2 linked regions of the Homo sapiens genome follow. Changing the gene in region 1 together with any one later gene gives a genetic interaction. Each region holds a gene or a part of one and is shown on either strand. Other genes may lie near its edges.

What was found. Genes that interact genetically often act in the same process or in processes that back each other up.
Region 2: changes in ARL5B (region 1) and SLC30A5 together harm fitness less than expected from each alone (positive genetic interaction), as found in Homo sapiens cells (one large-scale study listed by BioGRID).

Annotation. Positions count from the first base shown.
Region 1 is NC_000010.11:18,662,360-18,666,014, reverse strand, and holds part of ARL5B (ADP-ribosylation factor-like protein 5B), read right to left. Parts: intron 1-3,655.
Region 2 is NC_000005.10:69,110,917-69,114,571, reverse strand, and holds part of SLC30A5 (proton-coupled zinc antiporter SLC30A5), read right to left. Parts: intron 1,433-3,655; coding exon 1,345-1,432; intron 153-1,344; coding exon 76-152; intron 1-75. UniProt on the Homo sapiens protein: Together with SLC30A6 forms a functional proton-coupled zinc ion antiporter mediating zinc entry into the lumen of organelles along the secretory pathway.

The DNA.
Region 1 (3,655 bases):
TTCAACCGGCTTCTACAGTTCTTTTGAGCAGATTCTGTTTCTGCTCTTTGTACAATGAAAATCTCTTCAGTTCTTTCCTCCTTTGGGTGCCATGCACTAAATATTCACCTCTTTTAATAAGTAGTTGCTAAAGCTCATCTAATTATTCCGTTAAGTGGTATATATTCTGCAATGTCCTTTGAATACAGAAAACAACCCAGATACCATCTTTCCTAGATTTTCACTTATGCCAAGTATACTAAAGATCCCCTTCTCCAAGGCAGAAGAATGCTTAAAAAGTTACAAGTTAACATCAACAGGGTAAGTAGGGAAGTTTCCACAGAATCACAACACAGTTGATTTGTAGGCAACGATTGGGCACATCTCATATCAGAATCCCGCTCTTCTTGATGACCTCTGGTGAATGTCAACATTCTGGTCATATAATCAACTATCAGCTCATATTCCTACTCTGAAGTTCTAAACTTCATCAGCCAAAAAAAGAGGGACCAAGAAAATTTAAGTTCTTGAGATGTGCAGGTCTTCCAATGACCTACACACTCTAGATACAGCCTATTACAGTGCAGGATAAACAGACACGGTCCTCTGGAAGGGCTATTTTCACTATGGTAGAAGCTGCTTTGTAAAACAAAACAAAACTTGCCTGCTTAGTATAACTCACTATAATTCTCCTTATTTATTTGAGACAGGGTCTTGCTTTGTTGCCCAGGCTGGAGTGCAGGGGCATGATCACTGCAGCCTCGACCTCCCAGGCTCAAGTGATCCTCCTACCTGAACCTCCTGAATAGCTGGGACCACAGGTGCACACCACCAAGCTTGGCTACATGTCCTCTAATGAAGCTAATCTTTAAGTATTACCCTGTTTGTTATCCCTTAAAGTACAAGAACCTTTATCAGTGAGGAACAAACAGACTGCCTGGCACTAAGCATTCTAAATTTTGGTGACAGCTAGAAGCTCCACCTACCAAGCATCTACAGAAAACAACATGCCTGCAGTGGTGAGAAGGAAGCCACTAGTTTAAAGATAAGCAAAACTTGAAGGCAGATAATCCTGTTGGGAGAAAGGAATGGAAGGACAGTACCAGATGGCTCCTTCTTGAAGCAACTCAAATGAAGACCCAGGTCATTTGCAAACAATCCTGCTCCTTGCTTCACTTTTGCACTATGATGCTTCACATAATACTGAAGGCCTGTGATGGTAAAACTCACCAATAATGCACCATTTTGAAAGGTAGGTCCCTAACATGAGGAAATGTTAGGTTAAGACACTACTGTTAGGCCAGGCGTGGTGCCTTACGCCTGTAATCTTAGCACTTTGGGAGGCCGAGGTGGGAGGATCACGAGGTCAGGAGATCAAGACCATCCTGGCTAACACGGTGAAACCCTGTCTCTACAAAAAATACAAAAAAATTAGCCGGGCATGGTGGCGGGTGCCTGTAGTCCCAGCTACTTGGGAGGTTGAAGCAGAAGAATGGCATGAACCCGGAAGACGGAGCTTGCGGTGAGCCGAGATCGGGTCACTGTGCTCCAGCCTGGGCAACAGAGCGAGACTCCATCTCAAAAAAAAAAAAAAAAAAAAAAAAAAGACACTACTGTTACTATCAGTTACAGTAAATCAGAATGTTTTAGGCCAGGTGCAATGACTCACACCTGTAATTCCAACACTTTGGGAGGCCAAGGAGAAGTGATCAGTTAAATCTAGGAGTTTGAGACCAAACTGGGCAATACAGTAATATCCCATCTCTTAAGAAAAAAGTTAGCCAGGTCAGGCATGGTGGCTCACACCTGTAATCCCAGCACTTCAGTAGGCTGAGGTGGGCAGACCACAAGGTCAGGAGTTCAAGACCAACCTGGCTAATTTGGTGAAACTCCGTCTCTACTAAAAATACAAAACTTAGCCGGGCATGGTGGCAGGTGCCTATAGTCCTAGTTACTTGGGAGGCTGAGGCAGGAGAATCACTTGAACCTGGGAGGCAGAGGTGGCAGTGAGCTGAGATTGCACCACTGCACTCCAGCCTGGTGACAGAGCAACACTCCGTCTCAAACAAAACAAAACAAAACAAAAACAAAGAATGGTCTGGAAGACAGGATGCAGATAGATGATAAGTTTAAGTTTAGTGTGTTTGAAACCTGCTTACAGTCCAGAGTTAAGAGCAGAATAAGCTGGGGCCGGGCGCAGTAGCTCACACCTGTAATCCCAGCACTTTGGGAGGCCGAGGTGGGAGGATCACAAGGTCAGGAGATCGAGACCATCCTAGCTAACATGGTGAAACCCCGTCTCTACTAAAAATACAGAAAATCAGCCGGGCGTGGTGGCAGACACCTGTAGTCCCAGCTACTTGGGAGGCTGAGGCAGGAGAATGGCATGAACCCGGGAGGCAGAGCTTGCAGTGAGCCGAGATAACGCCACTGCACTCCAGCCTGGGCGACAGAGAGAGACTCCATCTCAAAAAAAAAAAAAAAAAAAAGAGCAGAATAAGCTAAAGAGAGAAATGTGAGCCACAAGATCTGAGATCTGAGCAGTCAGAAGTAAAGGACAATAATCATACGCAATTGGCAACCAGTGTTCAAAATGATAACATGAAATTCATGGATTGGAAAGAAATGATTAAATTATGAAATTAAGATGTTACTGTTACATGGTTCTGAAAAAGAACTACAATTAAAACTGTATTTCATTTGTTCTTAATTCTGGGTAACACTAGAAATAACTGGCCAGGTGCAGTGGCTCACGCCTGTAATCCCAGCACTTTGGGAGGCGAGTAGATCACCTGAGGTCAGGAGTTCGAGGCCAGCCTAGCCAACATGGTAAAATCCATCTCTACTACAAATACGAAAATTAGCCAGGCATGGTGGCAGGTGCTTGTAATCCCATCTACTCCAGAGGGTGGGGCAGGAGAATTGCTTGAACTTGGGAGGCAAAGGTGGCAGTGAGCTGAGATCACAGGACTACACTCCAGCCTGGGTGACAGAAAATATAACAATAATAAATAAAATTTAAAGACATCACTGGGCCAGGCATAGTGGTTCACGTCTGTAATCCTAGCACTTTGGGAGGCCAAGGCGGGCGGATTACCTGAGGTCAGGAGTTCAAAACCAGCCTGACCAACATGGTGAAACCCCACCTCTACTAAAAATACAAAAATTAGCCGGAGTGGTGGTGTGCGCCTGTAATCCCAACTACTCAGGAGGCTGAGGCAGGAGAATTGCTTGAACCCAGGAGATGGAGGTTGCAGTGGACCGAGATCGCACCACTGCACTCCAGCCTGGGTGACAGAGTGAGACTCCATCTCATTAAAAAAAAAAAACAAACAAACAACAAAAAAAGAAATAACTGATGACAGGTTTCCACAATCATAACACTGAGAGAAAAAGACTATGCCTACAAAAGTTCAAAAGAAATTTAAAAAACAATGCAAAACTTTAGAGGTGAGCTATCAAACACACATAACACATATGTATTTCACAGAACTACATTAACATATAAAATGTTTGCAGAGATAATCAGAATTCCAAATTATTTCCTTGAATAATAACTGTCGAAGTAAACAGGCTTCCAGTTCAAACAATACAAAATTGCAGGAATTAACTTTTACATTGCTTTACTTAGACAACACACGCTTTAGTATACTTATTCACAGAAAGGTATCTAATT
Region 2 (3,655 bases), on another chromosome or scaffold:
AAATGTACCTTTATAGTTATAGTTGCTACAACTTTTCAGAATCTTTTGATCCTGTTAGGAACAAAGAAATCATACCTTGTGATCTGCCACACCTAAGAAGGCAATGGCTGTGTAAAGCATATGAGTTAGAGCACTGTCATGATGTCCTTCAGCTAAGTGAGTTGAAGTAAAGGAAAAAAATTCCAAAAAGTCACTCTTTGACACCTGAAGTTCTCCTGAAATTTTAGTTACATTATTTTGGATTGCATATAGACTGATCTGGAGGCCTCAAACTTAATTACTTTCAATAACATGTTTCACTTAAAAACAAAACAAAATAAAACAATCTAACATTTAATTCCAGGACCTCATTTATAAACTGGAATGCCTGTATTTCTTTTGTTGTCTCCAAAACAATTATAATAGTGCTTAAGATAAACTTGCCAGATTTTAGTAGTTAACCTCTAAAAGACACATTGCATACATACTTTAAGAACGACAAAGGTACAAGAGCAAGGAATCTCCCTGGACCACTCCTGTCCAGTGGAATTAAGGTTGCCCTTTAAGACTGACATGTAAAATGAGTCCTAAATCTGTCTTCTAAGTCACTGACCACATAAGTCTTAGCAAATTAAGTGGCAAGCAAAAGAGGGTGGGGAATAGAGGTTGTATCACAAGCAACCTGGAGCTTTTCCAAAGTCACACTCTTCTCCCTCACTGTAACAAAGAAAATTATTATTAGTTTACTAATAAGTTTTAGGGCAGTGAGTATCAGTAATAGAAGAATAAAAACTGGTGCTTGGAGTTCTGCTGGATGGAGTGGGTAAGGATGTATGAATAGAAAATAGAAAAAAAGGCATGTTTGTAGAGTAAAATGAGTAGATATATTTGACTAGAAAGTTGGGTTTCTGTAAGAGAAGAGTTGGGGCTGAGCTAGAGATAATAATTTAGAGCAAGACAATGAATACTAGGTAAGGGAATTTGAACTTTTTCTTTCAGGCAAGAAGATACTAAAGGTTTTTCATTTATCAGCCTTTTAATTGTTAAATTATAAGGGAGCAAACATGTTGAGTGGCAAATCACCTTTTTTTTTTCCAGCACCAGGACATTCCAAAATATTCTTTCAATGTCCCTACATTTCTGAAAATTTAGGGTACTGTAGGTGATACAGAGATGCTATAAAATATTTAACTTATAATGAGTTTGTTCATTATTTGAATACTGATTTAGAATATCTACATTAATCTATGAAAGTTTCATTCATCATTGATCAGTTTAATTCACTTATCCTTTCTTTTTCCATTGTTCCAGGCTTCTAGTTTTCCTCAAGACTTGAAACAACTCTGATCTATTCCAAAAGGATACGGTGTTCAGCCATTTTAGCCATGAGATCATCATTGTCAAAAAGCAATAAACAGATCACAGCAATAATGAAAAAAGCAGCTCCCCTTGTCTGAAAATAAAGAAAACAACATCAAGGATGACTTTTTCAAGGGTTGATTTTTAAGACCGTAACTACATAAATACTAAAGAAAAACATTTTCTCAAGTAAGCATTTACAAAAATGCATTAAAAAACAGAAAAAAATCTGACATTAAAGCTCTTACATATTATAAGCTTACAGTATTGGCAGTAAGATATCAAAGAGATATAAACTAATGATAACATTGATTATCTCTTTGCTAACATGGCTGGGCATATTACTATGTACAAATTGGTACTGTTTACAGAATCAGCCTTCCTAAATGCTACTTTACTTCTGGTTGAAAAGCCCACGTAGCTAAAGAATAACTAGTAGGAACTTATTTTACTCTACAATATGCAAGGAATAGAGAATATTCTAGATACTACTCCTCTAGAGAAAAATAATCCAGAGGGCACGGTAAAACCAGCAAAGTCATTTCTAAGATCTAGTAAAGTACAAAGTACTTAAAAAGCTGATAAAATTTATGTTCTCATTCCAGGGAAAATTTTTTTTTTTTTTTCAGACAGATCTCGCTGTCGCCCAGGCTGGAGTACAGTGGCGTGAACACAGCTCACTGCAGCCTCCAATTCCTGGGCTCAAGTGATCCTCTTGCCTCAGCCTACCAAATAGCTGGGACCACAGGCATGTGCCACCATGCCTGGTTAATTTTTTATTTGTAGAGACCAGGTCTAGCCATGTTGTTCAGGCTGAGGAAAAAGGTTTTCATAAAAGAAAATTATAGAAAGGACATATTAGCTCGGTTTATGTAAATATTTCAGAATGGTAGCTTCAAGAGCAATCTAAATAGCATTACTATACATTCCTTTTTTTTTTTTGAGGAGAGTCTCTGTTGCCCAGGCTGGAGTGCAATGGCACGATCTCGGCTCACTGCAACCTCCATCTCCCGGGTTCAAGTGATTCTCCTGCCTCAGCCTCCTGAGTAGCTGGGATTACAGGTGCACATCACCATGCTTGGCTAATTTTTGCATTTTTAGTACAGACGGGTTTCACCATGTTGGTCAGGGTGGTCTTGATCTCTTGACCTCGTGATCCACCCGCCTCGGTCTCCCAAAGTCCTAGGATTACAGGCATGAGCCACTGTGCCTGGCTAAACAGCATTACTATACATTCTATATTTACAAATTTACAGGTATAACATGTCTTGTATGATACATATACTTGTAGAATACCTATTATATATAGATACATTAAGTGTATTATATATACCTATAATGGAAGTATAATACAATACTTCTATTAAAGTTTACAATGCAAAGTGAGGATACTCTTCATTCTATGATTACCACTATAATGGATAAATTCTGTTAGTGTGGTATTACAACAAAATTCAGTACACTACACATGAGAAAAACCATGTACTTTTAAATTTCTTAAGTTTTCACTGAGTTAGGATATGGCAACATCAACAACAATCAAATACAGAGAACATAACTTAATCTTTTTGTTAACAAAGAAGGCAACTGAGAATTTTGTAATGCTTCAGTCTCATAATTAAGAAAAAAAGGCCAGGCGTGGTGGCTCACGCCTGTAATCCCAGCACTTTGGGAGGCCGAGGCGGGTGGATCATGAGGTCAGGAGTTCAAGACCAGCCTGACCAATATGGTGAAACCCTGTCTCTACTAAAAGTACAAAAATTAGGCCAGGCGCAGTGGCAGGTGCCTGTAATTCCAGCTACTCAGGAGGCTGAGGCAGGAGAATTGCTTGAACCTGGGCAGCAGAGGTTGCAGTGAGCTGAGATTGTGCCACTGCACACCAGCCTGGGTGACAGAGTGAAACTCTGTCTCAAAAAAAAAAAAAAAGAAAAAGAAAAAAAAAGTCCGGGCGTGGTGGTTCACACCTGTAATCTCAGCACTTTGGGAGGCCAAGGCGGACAGATCACAAGGTCAGGAGTTCAACACCAGCCTGGCCAACATAGTGAAACCTTGTCTCTACTAAAAATACAAAAATTAGCCAAGTGTAGTGGCATGTGCCTGTAATCTCAGCTACTCGGGAGGCTGAAGCAGGAGAATTGCTTGAACCTGGGAGGTGGAGGTTGCAGTGAGCCAAGATGGTGCCACTGCACTCCAGCCTGGGCAACCCAGTGAGACTCCATCTCAAAAAAAAAAAAAAGAAAAAACAATCATCAAGTCCTGGACTGATGCCCTGATCCATTTCTCACACTAATGAGAACACTCTCACTTCTAGTTACTT